Linked DNA regions of Homo sapiens. The protein of the gene in region 2 purifies or fractionates together with the protein of the main gene of each other region. This does not show direct contact. Each region holds a gene or a part of one and is shown on either strand. Other genes may lie near its edges.

Evidence for each region. The genes of interacting proteins can lie anywhere in the genome.
Region 1: the proteins of NBDY (region 2) and EDC3 purify together in Homo sapiens (co-immunoprecipitation; one study listed by IntAct). This does not show direct contact.

The regions. Positions count from the first base shown.
Region 1 is NC_000015.10:74,668,525-74,672,839, forward strand, and holds part of EDC3 (enhancer of mRNA-decapping protein 3), read right to left. Parts: intron 3,251-4,315; coding exon 2,931-3,250; intron 1-2,930. UniProt on the Homo sapiens protein: Binds single-stranded RNA. Involved in the process of mRNA degradation and in the positive regulation of mRNA decapping. May play a role in spermiogenesis and oogenesis.
Region 2 is NC_000023.11:56,730,788-56,735,916, reverse strand, and holds part of NBDY (negative regulator of P-body association), read right to left. Parts: intron 3,855-5,129; 3' UTR 3,718-3,854; intron 1-3,717. UniProt on the Homo sapiens protein: Promotes dispersal of P-body components and is likely to play a role in the mRNA decapping process.

The sequences.
Region 1 (4,315 bases), on a different chromosome or scaffold from region 2:
GACAGGGCAACATAGTGAGACCTTGTCTCTACTAAAAGTAAAAAGACTAGCCAGGTATGGTGGCACACACCTGTAGTCCCAGCTACTCAGGAGGCTGAGGTGGGAGGATCATTTGAGCCTGGGAGTTCAAGGCTGTAGTGAGCTGTGATCGTATCACTGCATTCCAACCTGAGTGACAAAGCAAGACCCTGTCTCAAAAATGAATGAAAGAAAGAAAGAAAGAAAGAAAGAAAGAAAGAAAAAGGTTAAAGTCTAAATGGAAAGAATCATTTTCTATCCAAGCATTCTACAGTTTTTCTAAGGATACAGAAGTCACAACTGAATTTCAGTCTCATATTTGCAAACATCGTCATTTCAGATAGTTGTTTCATATGCACCAAAGGAAACTACCTTGAAACTGTATATTACATACATTAAAACATTTTTTTAGGCCAGGTGCAGTGGCTCACGTCTGTAATCCCAGCACTTGGGGAGGCCGAGGCAGGCAGATCAACTGAGGTCATGAGTTCGAAATCAGCTTGGGCAACATGGCATTATCCCATCTCTACTAAAAATACAAAAATTAGCCGGGCGCAGTGGCTTATGCCTGTAATCTCAGCACTTTGGGAGGCCGAGAGTTTGAGACCAGCCTGACCAACATGGAGCCCCGTTTCTACTAAAAATACAAAATTAGCCAGACGTGGTGGCACATGCCTGTAATCCCAGCTACTCGGGAGGCTGAGGCAGGAGAATCTTTTGAACCCAGGAGGCGGAAGTTGCGGTGAGCCAAGATCACGCCATTGCACTCCAGCCTGGGCAATAAGAGCGAAACTCTGTCTCAAAAAAAAAAAAAAAAAAATTAGCCGGGCATGGCAGCAAGTGCCTGTAGTACCAGCTTCTAGGGAGGCTGAGGCAGGAGAATCACCTGAACATGGGAGGTGGAGGTTGCAGTGAGCCAAGATCACACCACTGCACTCCAGCCCGGGCAACAGAGCAAGGCTCCATCTCAAAAAAAAAAAAAAATTAGTTTTAATTTAGTTGTTTATTCACTTGAATCAGGCATCTCCAAAACTTAAAATGTTGGCCCCTGACACAGGTGTCACACCACAAGCTACTAATAGAATTCACCCAGCACACTAAAACCTTACTACATTGCCACCAGGACCACAGTGTGAGGAGCAACAATGGTAGCAAGAAGTATCCGGAATTTTATGTAATAAACTTTCTGAGTGGGGTCTAGAGAGACCTAGCTCACTCTAAATTGTGCCTTTTAGAAGGTATTGCCATAGCATGACTCTAGCTTATAATTTTAAATGAGTTAATGAATACTCATTTAAAATTTCTTTTGGTTGTTCATTTTGAGACAGTCTCACACTGTCACCCAGGCTGAAGTGCAGTGGCATGATCTTGGCTAATCACAACCTCCGCCTCCCTGGCTCAAGCCATCCTTCCACCTCAGCCTCCTGAGTAGCTGGGACCACAGGTGCACGCTGCCACGCCCAGCTAATTTTTTTTTTTTTTTTTTTTTTTTTTTTGTAGGGATGGGGTTTTGCCATGTTGCTCAGGCTGGTCTCGAACTCCTGGGCTCAAGCGATCCACCTGCCCCAGCCTCCTGAAGTAGTGAGATTACAGGTGTGAGCCACTTGCACCCAGCCTCTCACTTAAAATTTCTAATACATTCTGCTACCATCTGTGAGTACAAAACCATCTAAGTAAAATAAGAATAGTTTGGCATTTGGAAGTAATTTTTTAAAACAACATTCATATTAATTTAAGGAGCATAACAGATTCCAGTGAATGTTATGATTCGCTATTGTAACATTATTCTAGTAAATATGTTGGAGAAGAACAGTTCTAGTGAATTAACTATGGTTTTGGAAGGCAGCTATGCTCACCATCATACCACCAACACAACTATGGTTTTATTTTATATTATTTATTTTATTTTTGAGACAGAGTCTCGCTCTATCGCCCAGGCTGGAGTGGCACAATATCAGCTCACTGCAACCTCTGCCTCCTGGGTTCAAGGGATTCTCCTGCCTCAGCCTCCAAAGTAGCTGGGATTACAGGCATGCACCTCCACGTCCGGATAATTTTTGTATTTTTAGCAGAGACGAGGTTTCAACATGTTGGCCAGGCTGGCCTCAAACGCCTGACCTCAGGTGATCTGCCCGCCTCAGCCTCCCAAAGTGCTAGGATTACAGGTGTGAGCCACCGTGCCTGGTCACAACTATGGTTTTATAATCAGCAAATGGCATTTAATAATGTGTTAGTATCAAACAAAACTGGGCAGCAACAGAGACCAATGCACATTCTTCTTGGTGTGTCAGTAGGAACAAATACAGCAAATTAAAAATTGTCTGCTAGAAAATCAAAGATCACAGAGATGTTTGGATCAGTCCCCTCCTCTCTTCTGAGGATGAGACTCAAATCACAGGAAGAAAAGTTACTCAAGAATCCTCTGGAACAGCCCAAGTGCAGGTTCAACTCAAACACTACTACCAACATCAGTAACAGGATTTAAGTTTTTTTTTTTTTCTTTTTCAGAAACAGAATCTCACTATTTTGCCCAGACTAGCCTTGAACTCCTGGGCTCAAACAATCCTCCTGCCTCAACCTCTCAAGTAGCTGGGACTATAGATGCGTGCCACCACGCCCAGTAGTTCCTGGATTTAAAACATCACTGTTAGTAAACTCTGGGCAGACTTTTCCTGAAGGAAGTGGTAAGAGAGGGCAGGAAGCTCACAGGCATCCCTAACAGCTTATTTCCTTTCCCTTAACATCTTGAGGAATGAGGCCTGGAGGAAGAGAACCATGTTGTATTTCTGTGACGCTCAGCCAGCATCCATTTTATTGGAATAACAAAGGATTTGTTTAAAGAGCAGCAGTGCTTATGGCTTATAGCCCTGAAACACCAGATTGAGAAGAAATATCAACTTGACCCTACTTACAGGAGTTGTGCCGACGACGGAAACTTTTGGACTGACTCAAGGATTCCATGTGCCTGTCGACATAGCTCTTTGAGCACTGTTGCTGCTGCGGGGAAACGGCAACATCCTGGCTCTTCACATCTGTCCTCTTAGGGATATTCTGAGGGGCACTGCTGGAAGAGGCTGGCTTCTTGACAAACTTGCCTGTGCCATTCTGATTGATGCCCACTTGGCAGCCAGCACCAGAGGGGCCTAATTCTGTTTGATGAAGGTCTCCAAAATGTTGGTTGTCTCCAGGTCCTGGTATCTCCAGAATTTTTAACTCCGTAATGTCACCTGCCCTGAAATACACAAAAAAGCCAAGTCTCAAAATTATAATAGTGGTAAGAATGATGAAACTGAGATCATTAGCAAACAGCTACCCCTTTGCAGGACTGCATTTTATTGAGTTATCAGAGGCTAGGAAAGGGGGCTGTGTGCTTAAGGACAGGGGTCAGCCACCAACTATCCAACTGACACAATGCTAGCCTTTAAAAAGAGGCTATTGGCCGGGCACGGTGGCTCACGCCTGTAATCCCAGCACTTTGGGAGGCCGAGGCGGGCGGATCACGAGGTCAGGAGATCGAGACCATCCCGGCTAAAACGGTGAAACCCCGTCTCTACTAAAAATACAAAAAAAAAAAAAATTAGCCGGGCATAGTGGCGGGCACCTGTAGTCCCAGCTACTTGGGAGGCTGAGGCAGGAGAATGGCGTGAACCCGGGAGGCGGAGCTTGCAGTGAGCCGAGATCCCGCCACTGCACTCCAGCCTGGGCGACAGAGCGAGACTCTGTCTCAAAAAAAAAAAAAAAAAAAAGAGAGGCTATTGCTAACAACAAAACTGTATTAATCTTACATTCCCACAATGTTTAATGGCTTTTGTTCATTCATTCACTCCCTCGCTCATTCAACAGGAGTATATAAAATACTTACTATGTGGTAAGCCCTGCACTATGAACTATTTTGATCTGGTATATAGAGATGAAAACCACTACGTGCCCACAGGAACTCAGTCTGGTCAGTGGAAAAGACAAGTACATATTCAATCAAAAGTGTTAAATGGACTGGGCACCATGGCTCATGCCTATAATCCCAGCATTTTGGGAGGCCGAGGCAGGCGAATCACTTGAGGCCAGGAGTTCGAGACCAGCCTGGTCAACATGGCAAAACCCTGTCTCAACTAAATAGAAATGATTAGTCGGGTGTGGTGGTACGCACCTGCAATCCTAGCTACCCAGGAGGCTGAGGCATGAGAATCGTTTCACCCTGGGAGGCAAAGGTTACAGTGAGCAGAGATCGCACCACTGCACTCCAGCCTGGGCAACAAAGTGAGACTCTGTCTCAAAAAAAAAAAATTTTTTTTTTTAA
Region 2 (5,129 bases):
TTGAAATCATGTCAATTTTCTTTTGTCTGGTTCAAGACAACTAAATCACTTGATAATGGTTTTGCTCAGGTCACATTGTGACAAGGTTTTAGTGTAGCCCTACTTCGCAGAAGGAGGCAGAAAAGACGGACTGTCTAGAACCCCCTTTAAAAGCATTTGTCTATTCAGAAAATTTTCCTGAGTAGATCTCTCCAAAGTCTCTTTTAATTGTGATTTCAAGATCACTTTTGCAGGACTCTGGTCTATTTGTTCAGACATCTACTGTGCACAATTACAAGGAGACTAGAACTGAGGCATCTCAAAGAGCACTGTCAAGGTGTGTAGGGAGCCGGGTGGGTGGAGGGAGGCTGGGCTCTGACCCTAGAAACCATGCTTATGAATGCTGTTAATGTTTAAAGCAAGCCTAAGGGCACTGCTGAAGGACAGGGGAACAAATAGAATGGACCAAGATTGAGGTATAACAAGAACTCCCAGGCTATCCACCTGCTCAAGGTAAAAAGTGTGATATTACATAGGGCAACCTCTGATTTTGTGAGAGTTCTTCCTAAAGTCACAGTGTATGCCTATTCTATGTTTCCAGATTACTTCATTCTTCCAAACGAGACCAAGTGTGCAAAAGTTCTTTGAACACTATATCAATGTTTTGTGTTCATTATAAATTATGGTTATCGTCCTGCTTGTTATGAAGACTAAGAAAGTAGATCTAGTATTTGGCTCACATAGGTGAAAAGGTGAGAATTTGTTAATCCATCAGTGAAGTCCTTTCATTTGAAAGAGAGGGCCTTTCTATTATCAAAAGCTGTCCTGTGTGAAAAATCACCATGAAAGTACCTGAAACACACAGGCTTGTTGTCCTGTAGACAGAATGGTAGAGTGATTCAGAGCTAATTCTGGGTTAGACTGCACAGGTCTGAATCTATTTGCTCACTGTGTAGTGCTTTAGGAATACAATTTAACCTCTCCGTGCTTCAGTTTCTTTGGCCCTAAGATAGAGCTAATGATAGAAACCAACTTTACACAGTTGTGAAAATTAACTGACTACATGTCAAACAGTCTCTGGCACATAGTATGCATAATGTAAATTATGTGATGAGAAGCGAGAAAAAATAACTTGGGAAAACACTGAATATCATCAAAGTTGAATAGCTAACCAGTAGCTAAAGTCCAAGGTCCCCTCTCTTCCTTCTATGTGGCACTCTTGTTTTTGGTCCATCTACTCCCCTTGGGTGTTACCTCCTTGAGTGAAGTACCTGCTGGAGATGAGAAGAGTGGAACTGGATCTGCATGACAGCTTTGATTAGGATGGAGCTAAGACTTGGTTATCTCCCTGTTTTGTGTTTTGGATGGGTGACATTTTAAAACTGCCAACATTAAAATCTTGCTAATTTGCTTTGTACAGTTTAAAATGTTTGATATCTTTTATTGTTTAAAGTTTGAGATTGGTTTTGAATATATGGTTTTCCTACATCTTGAAGAAGGATATGTTTGTTTGCTCTGAAGTGGTCTATGTTCTGTTTTTCTATTTTATTATACTTTGCAAAAAACAGATGGCTGGCTTATGTTCACTGTTGTAGTGCACTACCTAGTATCACTCAGCCTTCCTGTTGTCAAGGTGTAGGAAGCAGTGTAAGGGATGTTGGGCCTTCAGACCCCCAATTGCCAACTCTGGTCCTAGTTCCAGATTGCATGGACATATTTGATAACATTCCTGCACTGAGTTATCACGGTCTGAATATTTATGTGATGCTCTACGAGTGGTACCAAAATGTTAGTGATGGAATTTTCACTAATGGCACCTTTTCCTGTTTTTAAATTCTAGAATCTTAATAAATCCAAAGTGTACATTTTGGTAATGATTTCATTTAGCTATTTACTCTAAGGACTGCCTTTTAAAGCATTAACTCTGCAATAACTTTAACTTATGAAAAGATTCAGCAGTAAGAATAAAAACTAGGCCAAAGCACAAAGTAATAATCCTTCACAAATAAGATGGAGTTATAAAAATATGGGCATCCTGTGTGTAGCTTTGAAAATAACCGAAGTACTTGGAACTAAAAAGTTAGGTGAACATAAAAATTGTCATAACCAAATCCTTGACAGCTTGATGGATGAAAAGCAGATGGGTTTACACTGTATGGGAGGAGGCATGGATTTTAGGAAGGACAGCATCAGAGAGGGATGGTTAGAAAGTGAACAAGACACATTGCTCTTTGGAAAACAAGGAAAGTCCCTTAATTAGAACAAGGCATGAAATTCTGCCACTAGGTGGCGATGCCCTATAACTTTACAACTTAGGGTACATCACACCAGCACTATGGAAGGTTTCTCCATTCTGCACCCCACCAGCTCCCTCCCCTCCTTCATTTTTCAGGATGACAACACCTTAGAGGTTTATGGCCATCAGGAGAGTTTACTACTAAGCTATATACTGATCTAATGAAACCTAATATATGTTGTGCAATGAATTATGAGTTATTTAGTTTCAGGATTTTATTAATTCAATCAGTTATGACCATATTTCCTTTTATATGATTGTTCACTCTTTATACATACCAGATGACTGTATAAAGAACATCTAATAAAGTCTATAGATGTAAAAAAAATTAAAAAAGAAAAATAAGATAAAGTTAAACTAGAATGGGAATAATGTAATGATTTCATAATATATTTTTTAAAAAAGGAATCCCATATGATTAGAAATTGAAAAAAAACAAACCATGGGTCAAAAAAATCATAAGAGAAATTTAAAAATAATAAATATTGAATGATAAAAATACTATATATAAAAGTCTGTGAAATATTTCTAAAGTGGTAGAAGAAAATTTATAGTTCTAAATTCTTATTTTACAGAAGAACATTGAAAATTAAGATGCTAAAGATTCAACTCAATAAATTAGAAAAAGAACAATAAAAGGAAAGTAGAAGAAAGTTCAATATAAAAATAAAAGTCAAAATGATTAAAATAGGAACCAAATATCCAATGACGAGGCTCGATGAAAGCAAAAGCAAGAAATACATTAGAAAATTGATTATTGTAATTTATCACATGGTCACACTGTGATATTAATGGTGAAGAAAGGATATGAAAGTGGCAGTACATATAGACGGGAAAAAACTTCATAATATTTGTAATAAAACCTCTCAGCAAACTAGGAACATTAAGAAAGTTCCTTAACTTGAGAAAGACAATCTACTAAAAAAGGTGAAACTTTTGTAGAATTTAGGAACAAAATAAGGAAATCCTCTACCAATGCTGTTGTTCCTCTTTGTACTGAAGATCCTAGCTAGCACAGTAATATAAGGTAAAGAAATATTGTAAAGAAACTGTCATTATTCAAAATATAATTAATTAACAGATAATCCAAGAAAATCTATACATTATTAGAATAAACAGAATTTAAGAAGGCTCCAGCATATAAAATAAATATACAAAAATATCAATCATGTTCCCATTTACTAGAAACAATTAGAAAATGTAGTTAAAAAGATGATATATTTCACAGTAATAATAGAAACTATAAGTACAAGTGAATCTAACAAAACATTTCTTCAGATTACACTATTATTATGAATATGTTTTCATATAATGTAGAATATAGTTTCAATTTTATCATTTGCTGCTATCTTTTTGAGTTTTGTTTGGCTACTTTTTAATGTGTCAAAACCAACTCTTTTTTTTCTCTTCCTCCTCTTAATAATTTTTGGTAAAGAGATTACCTTAAAAAGCACAACTTCCAGGTTCAGGACACCAGAAAAAGCAGGGTAGCATTGTAAATAATCTTCATTGTTTTCACCAGGTGAACTATTATATGAATGCACCAGGGAAATGGAGTCATACTGCAATCACTCAAAGACTGAAAAATAGTAAAAAATATTGTGGCATCATTTTTTCTGTTTTTGTCCATCTCTTTGTCCCTTGGTCTCCTCAAATCATTATCCTTCCCATACCTCTATTTCAATGATTTATTCCTATAAAACAGTTGTATACATAGTATTAGAAGGGATGTATTATATAGAAGTTTAGAGCATAAACTCTGGAATCAGGTGTTCTGGGTTCAAAGCTCAGCTCAGCTACTTCTTGCTGTGTAACTTGTGGCAAGTCATACAACTTCCCTTGGTCTATACAAACTTCTCTAGTAGAGTTGTGATTAAATAAATTATAACATGCAAAGCCCTTTAGAAAATTGGCACATAAATCTTCAGTAAATATTGGCTATTATTACAATTATCAGTGATTTGAATCACTTGGAGGGGAAATTATGTAGCTACTGCACTTATTGTTTTGTTCTTTTGTTTTCTTTTCTTTTTCCTTTTTATTTTTTAAAATTATTTATTTATTTATTTTTTACACCGAGTCCCGGTCTGTCGCCCAGGCTGGAGTGCAGTGGCATGATCTCGGCTCACTGCAATCTCTGCCTCCTGGATTCAAGCGATTCTCCTAATTCAGCGTCCCGAGTAGCTGGGATTATAGGCACACAACACCATGACCGGCTATTTTTTTTTTTTTTTTTTTTACTTTTAGTAGAGATGGGGTTTCGCCATATTGGCCAGGCTGGTCTCGAACTCCTGACCTTAGGTGATCTGCCCACCTCAGCGGCACAAAGTGCTGGGATTACAGGCGTGAGCCACTGCGCCCGGCTGCTCTTTTGTTTTCTATCTGAGCAATTTTCTCCCTACTCCCTGCAACCTTCCACTCCACTACCCCTTTGAATAGAGGTAAACATGTGAGAAGTAAAACTGTATGGAATGACAGGGAGATGCTTTCAAGTAAAATAGATTTCTATTTTTTTTTTTCTATGCATTACCACCAAACCCAATGTCTAAAACTTTTTTGGTCGCCAAAGTTGTCCCATCATTCATTGATTTATTTATTGAAATATCTGTTTCACTCCTATTATGTACTAGGCACTATGCCTTGGCCATCCATCCCCTACAGCTCTCAGAATAATTCCTACCCATTGCAAGGGCTTCATAAAGGTTTACTGCACGAATGAAGAAAAGATGCTTCTCTCCTTTGAATTAAAAGGATCTATAAAACTTGGGTCAGATTCAGTTTTATAATTTGCATTCTATAAAGTTCATCTAAATATCAGAGATTCCTTTTCTGATAGTAAGAATAGGAATCTTAA